Linked DNA regions of Homo sapiens. The protein of the gene in region 1 interacts with the protein of each later gene in a pairwise test. Each region holds a gene or a part of one and is shown on either strand. Other genes may lie near its edges.

Region 1 (7,022 bases):
GACTGACCAACATGGCGAAACGCCGTCTCTGCTAAAAATACAAAAGTTAGCCATCTGGTGTCACGCACCTGTAATCCCAGCTACTTGGGAGGCTGAGGCAGGAGAATCGCTTGAATCCAGGAGGCGGAGGTTGCAGTGAGCCGAGGTCGCGCCACTGCACTCCAGCCTGGGTGACAGAGCAAGACTCCGTCTTAAAAAAACAAAAAACAAAAAACGAAACCTTATTTGAATTGGTTTGTGCTATCTGACAGTTTCAGGGGCTTTTCTGAATTTGATTTTTTATTTTTTTTATTTTCTGAGACAGTGTCACTCCGTCACCCAGGCTGGATGGAGTGCAAGGTGGTGATCTTGGCTCACTGTAACTGCCGCCATCCAGGCTCAAGTGATTCACATGCTTCAGCCTCCCGTGTAGTTGGAATTATAGGCACATACCACCTCGCCTGGCTAATTGTTGTATTTTTAGTAGAGACGGGGTTTCACCATGTTGGCCAGGCTGGTCTTGAACTCCTGACCTTGAGTGATCTGCCCACCTTGGCCTCCCAAAGTGCCAGGATTACAGGTGTGAGCCACTGCACCTGGCCTGATTTTTTTGTTTTCTCTGGATGGTATGACGAAATATTTAACTGTGGTAGGAAGTGCAGTGAGAAACATGTATTTTTTTTTTTTTTTTTTTTTTTTTGAGACAAGAGTCTCGCTCTGTTGCCCAGGCTGGAGTGCAGTGGTGCAATCTTGCCTCACTGCAAGCTCCGCCTCCCGGGTTCACACCATTCTGCCTCAGCCTCCTGAGCAGCCGGGACTATAGGAGCCTGCCACCACGCCTGCCTAATTTTTTGTATTTTTAGTAGAGACAAGGTTTCACCGTGTTAGCCAGGATGGTCTCGATCTCCTGACCTTGTGATCTACCCGCCTTGGCCTCCCAAAGGGTTGGGATTACAGGCGTGAGCCACCGCACCTGGCCAACCTCATGTATTCTTTAACTGACCTCTCATTCCTAGTGGTAAAAAATGTCAGGTTACTTGGGTGCAGTAGCTCACACCTGTCATCCTAGCTACTTGTTAGGCAGAGGCAGGAGGTTCATTTGAGCCCAGGAGTTTGAGGTACAGTGAGCTATAATTAGGCCAGTGCACTCCAGCCTGGACGACAGAGTGAAACCCTGTCTCTAAAAGAAGCCAACAGAAACAAACAAAGTTGTCAGGAGTCTAAGACATGTTCTTAGGTGAGGATGGGAACATTGGATAAATGGGCAAAAGGACATCAGAGCTGGCAGTGAAAGGAGCGAACTAGCACTGCCAGGGAATCCACATGTGGCCGGGTAGGCTAAGGATGGAAGGGTGTCAGTGTCACTGGCCTTCATTTGGTACATTTGAAGAGAAGAGCGATTGAAACTCTTTCATTGCATGCTGATGCTTTGTCGCATTTGCTGCACTTACCCTCTCACCCATCTCCCATCCTCATACCCTGACCCCACTCCCCACAACAGCATCTGCAAGATGGGTTGCTTCCCTGCACATACCCTCAGGCCCCTGGCCCTCTGTGCTGGATGTTTTCTGAAAACCAGCGGTCCCTGTTTCATGCATGTGTGTGTTCAGTACCTGAAGGCTCCCTGTGTCATTTACCCGCCCCTGGCTTGAGAGGCCAGTTTTAAGGGTGGTCTTTTCTTAGAGCCTTGGTTGTCTCCTGGTCACTTGGCTTCCAGCTCTGAGGTGCCCAAGAACCAAGGTTATGTGCATTCCTCAAGCTTTGGGAGAATGCTCAGATTATCTGGCTTACTGCTCCTCGGAGGGGTAGAGGGGTTGCGGTATTGTGGTACACCTACTAATTGTGTATTTTGTGTCCCAGTATTTGGGCTAAATACTCTAATGGAGATTGTTACTGAAGCCGGCCCCGGGAGTGGTGAAGGTGGGTCTTGCCTGTGAGCTGTGCATGATCTTTTTTTTTTCTCTAGCATCTTCTGTGCCTGCCCGAGGGCCATCCTTCTCATGGAGCAAGCAGCGTCACATGAGTGACCTGCTTGCCCCGTCCCCCGTGACGCCCATGCTTGCCCATGGGGCTTGCTGCTGGTGCATGTGGAGTGGCCTGAGTCTCCATCCCCACCTCCTCCACATTGCCATGGCTGGTTTCTACCTACGTATGATGCCTTGGTGCTACCCTCACCCAGCCCTTCTGAGGAACGGGCATGGAACATGGCTACTTAGGGCTGTGCTGGCATGAGCTCCTGTACTACAATAGTGATGTCTCTCATTCCTGCCTTCCCTGCCACAGGAAACAGGAGGGCGTTAGTGGATCAGAAGTCATCTGTCATTAAACACAGCCCAACAGTGAAAAGAGAACCTCCATCACCCCAGGGTCGATCCAGCAATTCTAGGTAATAAATGGTAGAGCTGTTTTAAAAGTTCTCAGGCAGAGGTGGGGTGGTTCCTCTACAGAACTTTAGGGATGCTCAAGAGTGGGAGAGAAGCTCTCAATGGGGTAGATGTAATCAATTTCTTGCCAGCACTTCTCATTCTGGCTTGATCTCCATGCAACTGAAAGCTTACAGTGTTGAGGGGGGTTAATCAGCAGCGGTGGGTATTTGGACAAATCGCGTGCTCCAGAGAGGTGGGGATGTGGTGCACTTGGACATTCAGAGACATGGCTTTGTGTTTTACCCCTGGAGGCAGACATCTAGTCTGGGTGAAAGGTGGGGGGTGCTCTGCAAAGGAGCTGATGACCACAGAAGCGGTGTGTGGACCCTGTAGTGAGAACCAGCAGTTCCTGAAGGAGGTGGTGCACAGCGTGCTGGACGGCCAGGGAGTTGGCTGGCTCAACATGAAAAAGGTGCGCCGGCTGCTGGAGAGCGAGCAGCTGCGAGTCTTTGTCCTGAGCAAGCTGAACCGCATGGTGCAGTCAGAGGACGATGCCCGGCAGGACATCATCCCGGATGTGGTCAGTGTTGGGGGTAGGGAATCGGAGTAACTGGAGAGAGGGATGTGAACACCACAGGCAATTTGCCAACGCTAGCCCCTGGGTTATTGTTGCAGGAGATCAGTCGGAAGGTGTACAAGGGAATGTTAGACCTCCTCAAGTGTACAGTCCTCAGCTTGGAGCAGTCCTATGCCCACGCGGGTCTGGGTGGCATGGCCAGCATCTTTGGGCTTTTGGAGATTGCCCAGACCCACTACTATAGTAAAGGTAGGGATCGTACTTGCTGGGCACCACGCCATCCCTAACTCTGCCACTTGTCTCCTGAAGAGAAAATATATGTGTACCCAGGACACGTTTCCCAGTGCCACGCTGCTTCCCATTAGGCTTTGGGATTTTATTTTCTAATGCATGTTTATACGCAGTGGGTATTCTTTGTTACGAAAAATAAGACATCAGCTCATCTTTCCTTGAACTTCTTCCATTCCGCACCCTCCTGTATCCTGGCTCCTCCCACCTCATATCTGCGCCTTGATTCCTACTCACTACTTCTCTTGACCTCTTGATATTTTTCCCTCAGAACCAGACAAGCGGAAGAGAAGTCCAACAGAAAGTGTAAATACCCCAGTTGGCAAGGATCCTGGCCTAGCTGGGCGGGGGGACCCAAAGGCTATGGCACAACTGAGAGTTCCACAACTGGGACCTCGGGCACCAAGTGCCACAGGAAAGGGTCCTAAGGAACTGGACACCAGAAGTTTAAAGGAAGAAAATTTTATAGCATCTATTGGTACGTATCAGTGTGTTTGGTGTGGTGGAGGGGTCCTGGCTTCTTAAATATCCCTTTCTCCTCAATTCATCCAGAATCCTGCCTTTCTCTGCCCCATGCTTTGCTTCTTAGAGAGGGAAGGGGGCCTGTGTCCATTTCTGGTGGTGTTTCTTTGTACTTCTCTAGTCTTTATGCTTCATCCACAGCCACCCCCCACCCCGTATCTTAGATGAAGAATGGTAAGTTTTGTTTAGAGGGCCCAATGAGGCTTACTGCAGGGGGTGTGAGCTGTACTCCTGGCCCCTCCTTTTATTTACGTCTGCATTTCTTCACATAGTGGAGAGAATTCCTGGAAGTGCTCAGGAAGTTTATAGATGCATTTTTGGGCTATAAAATTATGACATTTGTGTCTCTGAAGCCAGTGTCCTCCCATCCAACCATTATACTCCTCTGGAATGTGCTCCTCTGGGGCATGCCTGGCAACCCCATTTCCCTGGGTTCTGGATCTTTGAGGTATAGGTTTCCAAGTCAGTTCTTTAAATGCTTCTTCACTGGACTTGATTATAATCTCGTTTACATTTGGTGTTTCTCCGTTCCCACAAAGGCAGTGCCTTAGTGAGCTTTCTAGGCATCACCTCTGTTTGGCTCACTCCCTGCTTGACCTTGAGTCATCGAGGTTGGATCTTTCTTTTTCTGGTTCTAGGTCCCTAGGCACTCTGCTTCCAGCTGACATCTCATTGCCATGGCCATTAGCAGTTGCCATATGCTCCCATAAATGGTGACATGGAACCAGATTCCTTTTTAGGGGAGCTACACTTCCCTAGCCAGCAGAATATTATTCTAGTAGCAGTCAACTCCTGGCTTTCTCCTGCCTCATGTGATGTTGTAGAAAATGTACTGACCTGCTAGTCTGGAGATCTGGAGTTTTAGTCCCATATCAGCCTCCAACTAGGAATGCAACTTTGGGCAAATAACTTCACCTCTCAGGGTATCTGTCTCTTCATCTGGGAAATGAGGAAATCATACTAAGTACACTCTGAAGTTCCTTCCAGGAAAAGAATTGCTGTGGTTGCCATTCTGTCTGCTTTTCCCTATGAAGATGCTGGTCTTGACCATTTTATGTTCTCTGTCACCTCAACTGGAGGCATTTTTCCAGATCACTGGTGGGTAGGGCAGGTAGGGGTGAGTTGGTTTCTTGAGGAGCAATGAGGAGGGATGCTAACTGCCTGCATGAATTGGCCTTTGTTCAGTCCAGTGAATCAAGCAAAGATTGGTGTTCTTCCTTCTGAAACTCTGGCTGCTTGAGGTGTTCATCTGTCTCATCTGGAATCTGAAAAATTGCCCTTCCCCAGCTCATTTGGTAGAGAGAGTGTGTGGCATGGTGGGAGTTTAAATGGATCCTAAGTTACATGATCTTGATCAAGTGCTCCAGCCTCTTTAGGACCAGTTCCTCATGCAAAAATGAAGGAGCTTTGTTAAGGGCACTTCCAGCTCTAACATTCTGCAGGGTTTTTACTGCCACATTGGGATTGGAATTAGAAATTTGGAATCTGTTCATGAGTTTGGGTGGAGGGGTTAGATCTCTTGTTTTCTGCCCCTTCTCCCCATGAAGATATCTTTGTATCTCTTGGTTGGTAATCCAGTGCCTGAGACTGAATCGACTTGGGTGGGTGGGTTTCCATTTCGTCTGTCTGACCAGCCTCTGACTTTCTGTCTTTCTCTCCTGCTTGCATTGCATCTGGGGTAGAATTGTGGAACAAGCACCAGGAAGTGAAAAAGCAAAAAGCTTTGGAAAAACAGAGTAAGGAACAAATGCCCTTTCCTGTTCCCAAGTCCTCCATACCTGCCAACTCCCCAGGCCCAGTTGGGGCAGGCTCCCTTTGTCAGCCCCACCCCAAATTTGCTCTTAGAGCGTGTTTGGAATGGCAGCAGGTAGGTAGCATGTGACTCCTAGGTGTGTGTAGGCCGCTTCTTTCCCCCTCCCCTCGTGTCAATCAGGCTATAACCAGGTGTCTACTGAATACAACTCCCCAGAACTTGGTTCTCTGTTGCTTCAGAGTTGGTGGGGAGAATGTTTGCCTATTTTAGTGCCCCCCATTGGCTGATATCTCCCACACCTGTTAGAAGGCCTGTGGGCACAGTTGGCAGAGATGGTTGCTGTCCCTCCATGTTGAGTCTGTAGCTGCCCCACTCTCTGGTGGCTTGCCTAGGCACGCTTTCTTGCTTTCTGTCATTCTGTCTTTCTGCCATACCATTGTGGGTGGGTGGGGGACAAGGGGGGTGGTTTTCATCTCAAACATAGAAGTTGTAGGATGGAGGTAGGCAGTGCCCACCAAAACAGCTGGTGTTTCTTATCTCATCGGGCCCAACCTTTTCTACCTCCTTTAGACACATTTGTTTGGGAAGCATTAAGGGACCTGGGGACCATTAAATGGTTTCAGGTACCAGTGAAGCTCAGACTCTTGAGTGCCATGGAATGTGGTTTAGACATTTGTTCGTGGAGCTTTTCTTTTTTTTTTTTTTTGAGATGGAGTCTTGCTCTGCTGCTCAGGCTGGAGTGCAGTGGTACGATCTTGCCTCACTGCAACCTCTGCCTCCAGGGCTCAAGCAATTGTCGTGCCTCAACCTCCCGAGTAGCTGAGATTACAGGTGTGCATCACCACGCCCGGCTAATTTTTGTATTTTTTGGTAGAGACAGGGTTTCATCATGTTGGCCAGGCTGGTCTCAAACTCCTGACTTCAGGTGATCTACCTGCCTCAGCCTCCCAAAGTGCTGGGATTACAGTCGTGAGCCACCATGCCCAGCCTTGTGGAGCTTCTCTGTTTTAAGATGATTTGCTCAGAATTTTCTCAGGTTGAGAAGATGGCTGGAGAACCCATTGAGACCAGGTCTGATTTGTCCTACTTGGTTCTTAAGGCATCTGGGGTCCTCTTTTTCCAGTGGGTCCTGAGTGGGGGGTAGTCCTTGGAAAGGTGACTAGGATGGGCTGAACGGGTCTGGGAACAGCCTGTGCTGCCGTCCCACCCCCTTTACCAGCCTGCCCCTAGCCTTTGTGCACGGAGTAACAGAAGTCTTCCCCTACTCAGGGCCTGAAGTAATCAAACCTGTCTTTGACCTTGGTGAGACAGAGGAGAAAAAGTCCCAGATCAGCGCAGACAGTGGTGTGAGCCTGACGTCTAGTTCCCAGGTTTGTGACAACCTTGTTGAAATTTGCAAGTATTAAATATGCTGTCTCAGAATACTTCTTTAAGTTAAAATAGAACAGTCAGACAGCCGGGCACAGTGGCTCATGCTTGTAATCCCAGCACTTTGGGAGGCCGAGGCGGGTGGGTCACCTGAGGTCGGGAGTTCGAG
Region 2 (7,643 bases), on another chromosome or scaffold:
CGGGAGTGCAGTGGCCTGATCTCAGCTCACTGCAAGCTCTGCCTCCCAGGTTCACACCATTCTCCTGCCTCAGCCTCCCAAGTAGCTGGGACTACAGGCGCCCGCTACCATGCTCGGCTAAATTTTTTGTATTTTTAGTAGAGACAGGGTTTCACCATGTTGGCCAGGATGGTCTTGATCTCCTGACCTTGTGATGCACCTGTCTCGGCCTCCCAAAGTGCTGGGATTACAGGCGTGAGCCACTGTGCCCGACCACCTTTAGGGTTTTTACGTGGGCATGATTGACTGAATAATTGGCCATTGGTGATTGAACTCAATCTCCAATCCTCCCCGCAGGTCGGAGGCGGTCAAAGAGTGTGTGTTTTTGCGTGAGATAGGCCCACCCTCTCTCTAATAACATGGTTGCTCCCTCTGGAAACCAGCCCCATTCTGAAGCTGTCTAGGGACTTTCAGCCACCAGTCGTCTCAGGAACCTACGAAAAGACACTCTTATCTCTCTGGAGATCCTGGTGGTCCCAGGAACTCTTGGGTTGGGAACTTGGGGATGTTGACCAAAGAGTATAAAGTTTGGGCCAGGTATGGTGGTCACGCCTGTCATCCCAGCACTTTGGGAGGCCGAGGTGGGTGGATTACTTGAGGCTAGGAGTTTGAGACCAGCCTGGCCAACATGATGAAACACCGTCTCTACTAAAAGTACAAAAATTTGCCAGGCGTGGTGGTACATATCTGTAATCTCAACTACTGGGGAGGCTGAGGCAGGATAATCACTTGAACCTGGGAGGCAGAGGTTGCAGTGAGCTGAGATCGCGCCACTGCACTCCAGCCTGGGCAACTGGGTGACAGAGAGAGACTCCGTCTCAAAAAAAAAAAAAAGAAACAAAACAAAGAGTACGAAGTTTCAGTTAAACAAGAGAAAGAAGCTATAGTGATCTATTGCTCAGAATGGTGACTATAAGAAATAATACATTGCATATTTCAGAATTGCTAAAAGAGTAGGTTTTAAATGCTTTCATCTGGCCGGGCGCGGTGGCTCACGCCTGTAATCCCAGCACTTTGGGAGGCTGAGGCGGGCGGATCACGAGGTCAGGAGATCGAGACCATCCTGGCTAACACGGTGAAACCCCGTCTCTACTAAAAATACAAAAAAAATTAGCCGGGCATGGTAGCGGGCGCCTGTAGTCCCAGCTACCCGGGAGGCTGAGGCAGGAGAATGGCGTGAACCCGGGAGGCGGAGCTTGCAGTGAGCCAAGACAGCGCCACTGCAGTCCAGCCTGGGCGAAAGAGCGAGACTCCGTCTCAAAAAAAAAAAAAAAGTTTTCATCCAAAAAAGTATGTTAGCTGATGGATTTGTTCATTAGTGTGAATTAATCATTCCACATTGTAAATAGATATCAAAACAGTGCACTGTAGCCCATAAATATATACAATTATTTGTCAATTAAATTTTTGAAAAAAGCTGTGAGCAGTGTCTCCTGCCTGTAATCCCAGCACTTCGGGAGGCCAAGGTGGGAGGAATGCTTGAGCTCAGGGGTTCAAGACCAGCCTGGACAACATGGCAAAACCCCATCTCTACTAAAAATACAAAAATTAGCCGGGCGTGGTGGTGCACGTCGGGAATCCCAGCTACTCGGGAGGCTGAGGCATGAGAATCACTTGAACCTGGGAGGCAGAGGCTGCAGTGAGCCGAGATTGTGCCACTGCACTCCAGCCTGGGCGACAGAGTAAGATTGTCTCAAACAAACAAACAAACAAACAAACAAAACCCCCCAAATCAGCTGGGTGTGGTAGTGCATCTGTAGCCTGTAGTTCCTCTGACAGTTTTGTCTTTTCTGGAATTTCACAGAAATGAAATCACTACGGTATGTGGTCTTTTTCCACATAGCTAATACTTTTGAGGTTCCTCCAGATCGTGCCTGCGTCAGCCCTACTCACCTTTTTGTTGGTGAGTAGTGCTCCATTGTATGACTATGTTGCAATTTGTTTGTCCACTCTCCTGTTGATGGACATTTTGATTGTTTTTTTTTGTTTCTGGCTTTTATGAATAAAGCTGCTATGAGTGTTCATGTATAAGTCTTGGTGTGGGCATATGTTTTAATTTCTCTTGGCTAATATCTAGCAGTGGGATTGCTGTATGGTAAATGTATATTTAAACATTTATAGGAAACTGGGGGCACGAAGACTTTCAGTAATACTGGTCGAATCAATGGTGCCCAGGAATTTGCATTTTTGAGACAGGGTCTCTGTTGCGCAGGTTGGAGTGCACAGGCATGATCATTGCTCACTGTAACCTTGAACTCATGGGCTCAAGCAATCCTCCTCCCAGTAGTTGGGAGTACAGGCATGTGCCACCGTGCCCAGCTAATTTTTTCATTTATAATTTTTTGTAGAGATTGGGGTCTCCTTATGTTGCACAGGCTGGTCTTGAATTCCTGGCCTCAAAAAATCCCCCCCACTGCCTTGGCCTCCCAAAGTGCTAGGATTACTGGTGTGAGCCACGGTGCCAGGCCATGTGCAGTATTTTTTTGGATTTTTTTTGAGATGGAGTCTTGCTCTGTTGCCGAGGCTGGAGTGCAATGGCGAGATCTCGGCTCACTGCAACCTCTGCCTCCTGGGTTCAAGCAATTCTCCTGCCTTAGCCAGGAGAGTAGCTGGGATTACAGGCACCTGTGACCATGCCCGGCTAATTTTTGTATTTTTAGTAGAGATGGGGTTTTGCCAAGTTGGTCAGGCTGGTCCTGAACTCCTGACCTCAGGTGATCCACCCACATCTGCCTCCCAAAGTGCTGAGATTACAGGCATGAGCCACCGCGCCTGGCCTGGGCCATGTGCATTTCTAACAAGCTTCCCAGGTACAGCCAATTGTCTGTGCTAGGTGATCTGGACTTCGAGGTCCTTCACCTCTGAAGGACTGCCTTCCTTCCTCCTTCTGTCTGTGGAGTTCCAGGTTTTACTCCCAAACCTCAGCCCCAGAGGAGACCCAGCATCCAGATTCTGAGAGGTTGATCCCACCATACAGGAACCCCAGTCTTGCTCAGGAGTGAGTCAGCCCAACATGCACCCTCATTAGCTTAGCATCATGAGGGTTGGTAATTATTATGGTAAATACATGATTGTAACCTTGCCGTTCTGCTTCCTGCATCTTCTAATTTATATGAGCCTGAGGTCTCCCTCTTGCCCTTCTTGTGATAATGCAAGGAGGAAGTGTTCAGCTGTTCATTCATACACACTCATTGAGTCTTTTCTGTGCTAGGCAATGTCTAGGTGTTGAAGAAACACTGTGAAAGGGATAAAATCTCTGTTTTCAAGGTACTGGGGAAAGAACAACATATGTATAAACAAACAAGATAATCTCAGGGAGTATTAGGTTCCATGAATAAAATACAACAGGGTAATGGATAATGGAACTTTATTTTTATTTTCATTTTTGAGAGGGAGTCTCACTCTGTCTGGAGTGCAGAGGGGTGATCTCGGCTGACTGCAACCTCCGCCTCCCGGGTTCAAGTGATTCTCCTGCCTCAGCTTCCCCAGTAGCTGGGACTACAGGTGTGCACTACCACGCCCGGCTAATTTTTGTAGTTTTAGTAGAGATGGGGTTTCACTATGTTGGCCAGGCTGGTCTCAAACTCCTGACTTCAGTGATCCGCCCGCCTCAGCCTCCTGAAGTGCTGGGATTACAGGCATGAGCCACTGTGCCCAGCTCATAATGGAACCGTAGATAGGCACAAGTCCTCTCTGAGTGGAATATTTGAAGCCAGAGGGAGTCAGCTATACGAATATCCAGAGCTATTCTGTAGCTCTGGATTGGCCACAAGAGGGTATTGAGCACTGGAATTCTGGCTAGTTTGTACTGAGATGCGCAGTAAATGTAAAATATACCCGAATTTCAAAAACTTACTATAAAAAAGTTAACATATTGTATTAGTAATTTTTTCTTTTGGCGACATGTTGAGATGATCATATTTTGAACATATTGGATTAAATATATTAAAATGAAGTTCATTTTCTTCTTTTTCGTTTAAAAAAAATGTACTAGCTAGTAAATGTGGATTGCCTATGTGGCTGGCATTGTGTTTCTATTGGTCTGAGGAGAAGGGTCCTAGGTAGAGACAACGGCAAAGGTACAGTTCCTGGGGCAGAAACTGAAGGATGCTGAGGCAGAGTCGGCCGGGGAAAAAGTGGCTGAAATGGGAAGGGACCAGATCCAGTGGGACCTTGGTGGCAGCTCTGTAAGGAGGTGGGTTTTAACTGAAGTACGGTGGGGACGCCGTTTTAAGCAGGGAAGGGCAGGGTCTGAATTAACAGGCCCCTGTGGCTGCGAAGTGGGGAACGGACTGTGGGTGAGTGGGCCAGACGGACGGCCAATCGCACCTTTCGCTTGGATGGAAGGCAGGGTGGTTGTAGGTGGGAAGAATCCTGGGTTCCCATGCTGTCTGAACCAGAGTCATTTGTGGCCCTGCCCTCCCCTGGGACTCAATTTCCCCACCTATAAAATAAGCCCCAGTGTCCGCGAACCCTGGAGGGGCCCGCACCACTGCAGGAGCGGCCGCCGGCGCCAGGGGGCGCCTCCTCGATAACTCGGCGCTCGGCTGGCCAGGCACCGGCGCGTCGGCCGCTCGATTGGTCGGGTCGGGGCCGGCCTGAGCGCCGCGGGCCTGCGCCATTGAGGAGCGGCGGGGAGGAAACGCCGCGCAGCGCCGGGCTGGGGCGGGCGGCCCGGGACACCGACAGGTAGGGGCCGAGCGGCTCCGTGCCGGGCGGGGCCAGGGTCGGGAACTGCAGGGCCGGCGCGGACCCGCGGGCCGCCGCTAGGGCTCCGCCTGGACATGGGGGCCCGGGCCCACCCTGGGGAGAGCGATGCTAGGAGCCTGGGGGCCCCGTCGTCCGGCCTCGGTCTGAGCCCCTCGGGGTAACCCTGGGCGTCTGCTCCCCCCGGGCCCCAAGCCCGCCACCTCCGGGGACCCCTGCGTCCGAGTCCCCGCGAGCTCCCCAAGCACAGGCTCGGGGCTGGCTGAACCTCTGGGAACCCCGACGTCCGTGTCCTGGGGAGCCCGAGCCCCCGCTGGACCCCGGCACACTTTCCGGGGTCCCAGCAGCCTGGCGCCCTGGAATTGGGGGGTGTCAGTCCGCGCCTGTCCGCCTGAGCCTTGGTCTCAATGCAGGACCCCAGTGTGCGAGCCCCCCACATTACGCCGAAGAGTGGGGTGTCAGTTCTCTAGAATGCCTTAGCCACCTCCCTTAATCAGCCACCCGAGGTCACACTCTCGCGTGGAGACATCAGGCCTAAAACCTCTCTTTACCTTTTGCCCCCCAGGGTCACGCCCTGGCCCAGCCACTCCTCCTAGGTGTGGGATGCCAGACATCAGGCCTAAAACCTCTCTTTACCTTTTACCCCCCAGGGTCACGCCCTGGCCCAGCCACTCCTCCTAGGTATGGGATCCCGGCGCCGTTCCCTCCAGGTTTTACTTGGGTGGTGGGGTCTCTGTCCCCTGGAGGGGGCTGAGGGTTCCGAGAGCTGGGGGCGGGAGGGTTGTGGGAGCGTCGCCTTCCGGGCAGTGCCGTTCCTGTGGGGCCACCGGTCGCACAGCCGTCCCCGCCCCGGTTTTGGAGCTCCCTGGCGCCGGCAGCGTTCAGCCCTGGCCGCCTCGGGGAGGGACGCCCAGGTCCGGTTGCCAGTCCTTCCTATTCCCGGTCTGGCCGCTCCTCAGGGGAGGGGCCTGGCTCAAGGTCATGCCCGGCTGTCTGCCCGCCCGTGGGCTCAGCACTGATCCCTACTGTCACCCGCCCCACTGGGTAGGGGAGCCCAGGTGGGGGTTAGTGCCAGTGCCAGGCAGCTGCCTAGAAGTCCTGATGGACCGGAGTGTAAACACTTTGGGACTCTGGCCAGTCTGGCGGCCCTTGCTGACACTGAATTCCTTCAGGGAATCCTTGAAGTGGCCTCAAGCACGGTCTAGATGCTTAGCAGAGCAAATAATGGGTGCTTTCTGGTTTGGGCCTCAATGTTACTGACCAGGTTGCCTCACAATGCTAATCACTCATGCTTTTAAAATCTGTGCTTTGCATTCTTTTCCGTTTAGGGCAAGTAGGGTAGGGCCTGAACTTGTTTACAAACTGACAGTTGTTTCCCTTGATTTGGAGATAATTGGTAATTGGCACTCAGAGTTGGCATTTAGGGCCGAAATTAGTGGCAATAACTACAAAAATAAAGAGTACTCTGACCTTGGCTTCTTGCTCAAATTTGTTTGGAGTCCCCATAGTAAGATTAGTCAGTTTCACATTTGGTTTTCACAAATTTACTCCTTTCAAGTTATAATAGTGGCCGGGCACGGTGGCTCACGCCTGTAATCCCAGCACTTTGGGAGGCCAAAGTGGGCAGATCGCTTAAGGTCAGGATTTCAGACCAGCCTGGCCAACATGATGAAACCCTGTCTCTACCAAAAATACAAAACTTAGCCGGGGATGGTGGCAGGTGCCTGTAATCCCAGCTACTCAGGAGGCAGAGGTAGGAGAATCGCTTGAACCCAGGAGATGGCGGTTGCAGTGAGCCGAGATCCGAGATCCCGTCACTGCACTCCAGCCTGGGCGAGGGAGCAACACTCTGTCTCCAGAAAAAAAAGTTACAATAGAGAAATGTTTCTTTTATTCAGACTGTTGAGCATTTTTTTTAAAAAATTGTTCTTATAACATCTTCTTTAAACAAATGTAGCTAATAATTAGTTTTATGTAACTCTACCCTTAAAAAATATCTTTATATTCCATTTGCAGAAAAAAAAATCTTTGGAAAGAAATTGGTCAAATATTTTACCAAATGCTGTTTTTTTCTTTTTGCTGTCACTGTTGACCAATAAAAGTTAATCTTCTCTGGAAGTACAAGATATTGTTGACAAACAAAAGCCAGTTTTTCCAGGAGATTGAATTCATTCTTGTGGAGGCCTTGTGCTTCAGGTAGTTGTTGGATGGCAGCCTCTCAGTTGGGATAGGTGTATCTTCTGGCACTAAGATGAATCACTAGAGGTGGGGCAGCGTGCTTGGAGAGGATCCTGAAAGTAGGCTGGCTCCAGTGGGATGCGTGCCATGGCAAGTCTGTAGTGCCTGGCAGGGTGGCTGATGACTGACATGGTGGATCAGAACAAGATTTGAGGCTCACAGTTTCCACTGGGATCTTCTAGTTGAGCAATCTCAGAACCCAGTTAAACTTTTGTGTCTCAGTTTCCCTCATGTTGACTTTTTGTAATACTAAAATTAGTCTTTTTTTTTTTTTTTTTTTTTTTTTGGTAATACTGGTAAACACCAGTTATTATAACAGGCAGTAGTACCTACAAAATCTAAATACCGTGGCTGGAGCCAGAGGATTTCTGGAGTTTGGGGTTTGTAATAATCGACTAAGATTGTTCATTGTATCAGCGTCATCTGGTGCCCAGGTACCAGTAATGCAGTTCCAGGACATTTAAGAACAGTGATAAAGCACTGTCGCCTCTCTCCCATGTATATTATTTTATAAGTGATCCTCATGAACAAATTTGAGACATTTAATTTGGGCGGCCTAAATGAGGATCATTAAAGAATGTGAATTCTCCCCCCACCCCCAACTTTATTCAGGTTTGTTTCATGAGTTTCTTTTTCTTTTTTTTTTTGAGATGGAGTCT
Region 3 (7,022 bases), on another chromosome or scaffold:
GTGCCATTCTTTTGTTTCTTCACTTCTCTAATAAACTGCTTTCACTTTACTAAAACAAACAAACAAAAACTACCACAATAACTCAGATAAGAGATGAATGTGGATGGGGCCAAGGTGATTGCAGGGAAGGAATGAAGGATGAGAGAATTCTGCATTTATTTTTAAGGTAGTCAGCATTATTTCGTGAAATATTGGATATGGTTATAAAGAGAGGAGTCAAAGTTTTTTTGGGTTTATTTTGTTTGTTGATTGTTGTTGTTGTTGTTTGAGACAGAGTCTTGCTGTGTCACCCAGGCTGGAGTGCAGTGATGCAATCTCTTGCTCACTGGAACCTCCACCTCCCAGGTTCAAGTGATTCTCCTGCCTCAGCCTCCCGAGTAGCTGACATTACATGTGCGCGCCACCATGCCTGGCTAATTTTTGTATTTTTAATAGAGACAGGGTTTCACCATGTTGTCCAGGCTGGTCTTGAGCTCCTAACCTCAAGTGATCCATCTGCCTGGGCCTCCCAAAGTACTGGGATTACAGGTGTGAGCAACCGCGCTCAGCCAGGAGTCAAAGGTTTTATTTACTGAATAACTGAATCAGTGGAGATGTCACTAATTATAATGTGGAAACTTGCAAATGGTTCAACTTGGTGGGGGTGTTCAGCTTTGAATATGTTGAGTTTAAGATGTCTACTCAAGTGAAGCAGGAAGTTGAGTACATGAGACTGGATTCTGAGAGACAGAGTTCTCACCTGGAGATATAAATTTGGAATTCTTTGGCATATAGATGGTAATTACACCCATGAGGTGGATGAGATAACCAAAAGATTGAGTGTCTATTAAGAAGACCAAGGATCAAGTCCTAGATAATTCTTCTATTAAAAGGACCAGGCCAGGTATAGTGGCTCACACCTATAATCCCAATACTTTAGGAGGCTGGGGCAGGCAGGTCACGAGCTCAGGAGTTCGAGACCAGCCTGACCAACATGGTGAAACCTTGTCTCTACAAAAAATACAAAAATTAGCCAGGCATGGTGGCGAGCACCTGTAATCCCAGCTACTCAGGAGGCTGAGGCAGGAGAATCACTTGAACCTGAGAGGCAGAGGTTGTGGTGAGCCGAGATCGCACCACTGCACTCCAGCCTGGGTGATAGAGCGAGACTCCATCTCAAAAAAAAAAAAAAATGAGGACCAGGATAAAGAGAGGAACCATCAACTTCCTCTCAGGGAGACTGAGAAGGGGAAGCCAGTGGAGTAGGATTAAAAACAACAGTGTTCAGTGTCCCAGAAGCCAGGAGAAAGTGTATCAAGGAGGAGGAGTGACCAACAGTGTCAAATGATGATTACGGGATAAGTAAAATAAGATATGAAAATTGACCACTAGATTTGGACATGCAGACAAAGCTGCTCTTGATGAGAGCAGCTTTGGTAGAATAGTTGGGAATAAAATCCTGAATAAAGTGGATTAAGAGGGAATAGAAAGAAAGGAATTGGATACAGTCAGTATAGACAACTTTTTCTAGAAGTCTTGCTGCAAAGATATGGAGTGATCCCTAGAGAAGAAAGTGGGATCAAGCAGTATTTTTCTTAAGATGGAAGAAATTGCATATTGTTTGCATGGGAATAATGTGAATAATTCAGTAGAGAACAAAGGAAATTATGTAGGAAAGAAGAGAGAATTGCAAGGAGAATGTTCCTGAATAGGTGAGAGGGGATGAAATCTAGTGCTCAGAGGAACTGGCTTTAAATAGGAACACAGACAGCTCATCTAATGTGAATAAGCAAGGAGGCAGGTGTGGATGTTGGTAGATACCAGAATACAAGTTAAGAGCAGCACAGATTTTAAATCCAGAACTAGAGAAGAAAAAATGAGGGTGAAAAGTGGGAAATTATTCCTTTAGAATAAGTGACTGAACTTTCCTGAGAGCAGAGTTTTTTTGGGGGAAAGAGTCAAACAGGAGAGCTGTCTATGAATAAGATGATGATGATAATGGTGATGATGATGATGATGACGACAATGAAGATGATGATACATGTTTAAAACATGTGGATTATGCTTTAGAGTTTTCTAAGCACTTTGATTTCCCTGATCACACTTGATCTTCACAACAGCCCCCTGAAATATGTATCGTTTCCACTTTACAAACAGAGAAAGTTGAGGTTCAGGGTCAACACAAAGAATAATAACAATAGTAATAATAATTATGGTAATAGCATTTGTTAAAAGTTCACTACATGACAGGCACTATTCTAACCGTTTGATATGTATATGTGTTATTTTAATGATAATAACAATCCTAGGAGGTATAAATCCCCATTTTATTGATGAGGGAATTGAGGCTTGGAGAGGTTCAGCAACTTGCCCAAGGTTACATAATTCATCAGTAGCAAAGGCAGGATTCAAACCCAGGTGGTCTGGCTCCAATAGCTGTACCTGAGGGTGGGAAGAAGACAGCTCAGATCACCCACTGAGTTTGTCCCTCTACTCTGACAAACCCCATGAGCTGCAGGGCAGAGGGTACAGTTCTGATCCCCAGTGGTCCCCGTTACTGGATCCCCAGACTCCTGAACCAACTTACGCTGTCCTCTTTCCTGACAGGATTGTCCTGGCACGATGACCTCACCCAGTATGTGATCTCTCAGGAGATGGAGCGCATCCCCAGGCTTCGCCCCCCAGAGCCCCGTCCAAGGGACAGGTAGGCAGCCTTTCTCTACAACTCTAGCAATGGTGAGGCTGATGAATCTGTGGTTGTCCTAATTGATGGAGAGAAGGGGAAGGAAGTGGGCACCAAGGCCAGCATGCTGGGGCACAGGTAAAGAGGTGCAGGAATGGTCACTCTCTGACATGCTCACATGACCAAGAGGAGCTGAGCTCATCTCTAGGGATCCAGAAAAACGGGCATTTTTTGAATGTTTTGAAAAACATTGACATTGGCTACTTTAAAAGAAGCATCAATGTAGTCATCATGGGAGAAATTAGAATGCTGTTGGACTGAAGTTGTTCAATATTCCATTTCATTACTATGTGAATTTCTATATGACAGGAGCCACCATCATCTTTTTGTGGTTAGGGCCTCTAAAGGCATCATTCAGACTGCAAAGCAGAGGAAAGTAAATGAGGTTTAGGGAGCTCAGATGATGATACCAGGATGAAGATGGCATAGTGGTGGGGGGTGGAGGAGCAGTCCTGAATATTTGGACATATACTTGGAGAGCCAGGTGTGGGGACATGGCACACAGGGGCAACGGGGACAGCTGCAGCCACAGTTCATCTAGAGAAATTCCTGGTTGCCTTCCCCTGCTCCTGTTTGCCCCTTCTCCATCCCCAGCCTCATGATTACCCAGCCTTTGCAGTTGTTTCAGAGACTCAGCCATGCTCACCAGGGAGGCAGATACCTCTGCCCTCAGCTTGGCCCTCTGGTCCCTCCCCATTCCCACCCAGCCCATCTCTCTTCCCCTGAGGTCACTCAGTTTCTAAAGAGGTCAGGCCTGCTCTTAACCGCTGAGCCTGCCTGGCCCCGAATAGTTCTGCCTTGCAGGCTCTCTATGCCCTTTCCCCCGCTCCAACACACACACTTTGCTTTCCTCTACAGGTCTGGCTTGGCACCCAAGAGACCTGGTCCTGCTGGAGAGCTGCTTTTACAGGACATCCCCACTGGCTCCGCCCCTGCTGCCCAGCATCGGCTTCCACAACCACCAGTGGGCAAAGGTGGAGCTGGGGCCAGCTCCTCTCTGTCCCCTCTGCAGGCTGAGCTGCTCCCGCCTCTCTTGGAGCACCTGCTGCTGCCCCCACAGCCTCCCCACCCTTCACTGAGTTACGAACCTGCCTTGCTGCAGCCCTACCTGTTCCACCAGGTAAGTCCTTGACTCTGGTCCCACCCCAACCGCAGTCCCTCAGCCCGGACTTCTGCTCTTACCCAGATCTCTGGTTTTCCACAGTTTGGCTCCCGTGATGGCTCCAGGGTCTCAGAGGGCTCCCCAGGGATGGTCAGTGTCGGCCCCCTGCCCAAGGCTGAAGCCCCTGCCCTCTTCAGCAGAACTGCCTCCAAGGGCATATTTGGGGACCACCCTGGCCACTCCTACGGGGACCTTCCAGGGCCTTCACCTGCCCAGCTTTTTCAAGACTCTGGGCTGCTCTATCTGGCCCAGGAGTTGCCAGCACCCAGCAGGGCCAGGGTGCCAAGGCTGCCAGAGCAAGGGAGCAGCAGCCGGGCAGAGGACTCCCCAGAGGGCTATGAGAAGGAAGGACTAGGGGATCGTGGAGAGAAGCCTGCTTCCCCAGCTGTGCAGCCAGGTAACAAGGTCCTCAGCATCCACCTCCCTGTGAGGGCTGCTTTGGGGGAACCATGGTGGGGCCCTTCCCTGACAATCTATGCGTTTGTTAACTTGTCCTTAAAGTCATTCATACATTTAAGGAATGTCTACTGACAAGCTGTTCTATGCCAGGCACTAGGGAAGTGGTGGGGAGTGGAGTTGACGTGACTCTCCTTCCAGTGGAGAGTCAAGATGTCCTGAAGTTTGATCTGGGTCCCAGGAAGAACTTTCCCCCAAAGTGTGGACAAGGGCTGGGAAAGGGAGGGCATCTCTTGGTGTCCTGGTGTCTGGGAAGACTCTCTTAACATGCTAGTCCCTTCCCACCCTCACTCACTCATCTGCATCCCTCAAGTTCACTGCGCAATCAGCCCTAAGCTCTGTGTCTGGCTCCCAGCAGATGCGGCTCTGCAGAGGCTGGCCGCTGTGCTGGCGGGCTATGGGGTAGAGCTGCGTCAGCTGACCCCTGAGCAGCTCTCCACACTCCTGACCCTGCTGCAGCTACTGCCCAAGGGTGCAGGAAGAAATCCGGGTAAGTGTCCAGGCAGAGGGAGGGACCAATATCTCCCGGCTCCATGGAGGCCTCTTGCCCTGCCTCGAGACCACTTGGAGTAGCCTGGAGAGGAAGAGTCAGGCTTCAGGGGAAAGAGTTCCTTTGAGACATAGGGTCATTGCCAGCAAGGCAGGGAGCAAGGGGGTAGGGTGGCAAGCTTAGGAGTTAGATCAGGAAAAGACTAGATGGTGGAAGTAATGGAAAAAGCAGCCAACAGAGGGTGTGAGCAGGGAAAAGGAGGCATCGGGAAGGATGGGTTGGTGACAATGAGGGCCTAAAAACGGGCATAGCCAGTACTAAGAAGAAGCCAGTAATTGATGGGTAGAGAAATAACTGAACAAAGAATAGCTTTGAGAGAGATGGCCAATGGTAGAGGGAGGAGTTAATAAAACAGTAAATTGGGAGGAGGAAGCAAAAAGGAATGAGGCCAGGCTTAGGATGAGACCAGTAACAGGGTCTTGGTCACTGACTGAGATGAAGACCACAGCAAATGTTCCAGGCTCAGGGTCTCTGGCCCTTTCTCCCACTTGTGTTGTGTAGACCTTGGCCATGGCCATTTTTCCAGACTCTTGTTTTTCCTGTCTCGCAGGAGGGGTTGTAAATGTTGGAGCTGATATCAAGAAAGTGAGTCCCCAGCACCTCCTTGACTCATAATCACCCCATGGCAGCACGCCCCCTTGCCAAACCTAAATTTCAAATTCAGGACCTAGAATCTGTATCCTCCCACCCCTCATTTTGGGGGAAACCAAGGCCCAGAGACCGCAAGTTATTGCCTAAGGTCTCCCATCAAGTTGATGGCAGAACTGGAGCCAGAAAACTGAATTCTTAATTCATTCCTCTTTTCACTACAATCATTTCAGACCATGCTCTGAGGATTCCTAGGGGAGGAGGGAAGTTTCGAGCAGAGAGCCCTTCCTGAGCTTCTGTAGCAGGAGGAGCTCTGCTTCTTTCTGTTTCATGTGTTGGATTTCTAAGACTTTGTGGCTAAACAAAAGTCTAGAAACCATCGCCTGCCTGTTTGTCTTTTACCCTCACCCCAGCTTCTCTTGCTGCAGGGGTTTTCTGTCTCCAGCCCCATTCTGTGGATTAGTACAGACCATTTTCAATCATTCAATCCTTTATTCATTCATGCATCCACTTACTTGTCTCAGATGCTCTGGTGTCCTCTCTGTACCCAGCACTGCAGTGGTCCCTGGGGGTAGAAAGTGAAAAGCAGGTCCTGAGCTCCACTGTGGAGAGCTCCGAGTCCAGGGTACCCCTTCCCCCAGCACTGTCCAGAGGCCACACCTCCACCCTCTTCTGAACAGACAATGGAGGGGCCGGTGGAGGGCAGAGACACAGCAGAGCTTCCAGCCCGCACATCCCCCATGCCTGGACACCCCACTGCCAGCCCTACCTCCAGTGAAGTCCAGCAGGTGCCAAGCCCTGTCTCCTCTGAGCCTCCCAAAGCTGCCAGACCCCCTGTGACACCTGTCCTGCTAGAGAAGAAAAGCCCACTGGGCCAGAGCCAGCCCACGGTGGCAGGACAGCCCTCAGCCCGCCCAGCAGCAGAGGAATATGGCTACATCGTCACTGATCAGAAGTAAGGGCTGCATCCTGGGAAGCTTTCTGGTCTGCTAGGATTTGGGCTGGCCTGCCTGGCCAGAAGCAGAGGGCAGAAATCCAGACGTGCAGGGACAGGGAATTGGCAGGCTGCTCTGTACCCCTGGAGTGGCCTGTTTTAAGAAAGTGACTGAGAGGGTTGCCCCACTTTCCTTCCTCTGCCTTCTCCCATCTCCAGGCCCCTGAGCCTGGCTGCAGGAGTGAAGCTGCTGGAGATCCTGGCTGAGCATGTGCACATGTCCTCAGGCAGCTTCATCAACATCAGGTGGGGCTGGCATCTTGCTAGGGCAGTGGCCGAGATCTAGAAAGCAGCTTGAGCAAGGAGGTGGCTGGAGGGGCCTGCGGGAGGAAGAGCAGACAAGCTCTGAGCTCAGGGATGCTCCCAGCTGTACTGAAGGTACAGCCACACCCAGCCCGTTGCTGGCCCCACCCAGCATCTTCCTTGCCTAAGATGCCCCTGTAGGGCATCCCCGATCTGCTCCAGCCCCATCCTCTAACGGGGAGAGGGCCAGAGCTGGCCTCTTTTTTGAAGTCTGCGGTCTGGGGTGGAGAAGGCAGTAACATAGCTC

What was found. The genes of interacting proteins can lie anywhere in the genome.
Region 2: the proteins of MADD (region 1) and VPS13D interact in a two-hybrid assay, tested with the Homo sapiens proteins (one study listed by BioGRID and IntAct).
Region 3: the proteins of MADD (region 1) and PTPRN interact in binary tests that used the Homo sapiens proteins (3 or more experiments, as listed by UniProt).

What each region holds. Positions count from the first base shown.
Region 1 is NC_000011.10:47,287,129-47,294,150, forward strand, and holds part of MADD (MAP kinase-activating death domain protein), read left to right. Parts: intron 1-1,839; coding exon 1,840-1,899; intron 1,900-2,262; coding exon 2,263-2,365; intron 2,366-2,660; coding exon of another isoform or gene 2,661-2,738; coding exon 2,739-2,925; intron 2,926-3,020; coding exon 3,021-3,171; intron 3,172-3,481; coding exon 3,482-3,688; intron 3,689-5,414; coding exon 5,415-5,468; intron 5,469-6,361; exon of another isoform or gene 6,362-6,754; coding exon 6,755-6,855; intron 6,856-7,022. UniProt on the Homo sapiens protein: Guanyl-nucleotide exchange factor that regulates small GTPases of the Rab family. Converts GDP-bound inactive form of RAB27A and RAB27B to the GTP-bound active forms.
Region 2 is NC_000001.11:12,225,393-12,233,035, forward strand, and holds the start of VPS13D (intermembrane lipid transfer protein VPS13D), read left to right. Parts: upstream 1-4,637; 5' UTR 4,638-4,728; intron 4,729-7,643. UniProt on the Homo sapiens protein: Mediates the transfer of lipids between membranes at organelle contact sites. Functions in promoting mitochondrial clearance by mitochondrial autophagy (mitophagy), also possibly by positively regulating mitochondrial fission.
Region 3 is NC_000002.12:219,299,396-219,306,417, reverse strand, and holds part of PTPRN (receptor-type tyrosine-protein phosphatase-like N isoform 1 precursor), read left to right. Parts: intron 1-2,586; coding exon 2,587-2,683; intron 2,684-3,580; coding exon 3,581-3,842; intron 3,843-3,926; coding exon 3,927-4,281; intron 4,282-4,698; coding exon 4,699-4,830; intron 4,831-5,440; coding exon 5,441-5,475; intron 5,476-6,158; coding exon 6,159-6,433; intron 6,434-6,631; coding exon 6,632-6,718; intron 6,719-7,022. UniProt on the Homo sapiens protein: Plays a role in vesicle-mediated secretory processes. Required for normal accumulation of secretory vesicles in hippocampus, pituitary and pancreatic islets.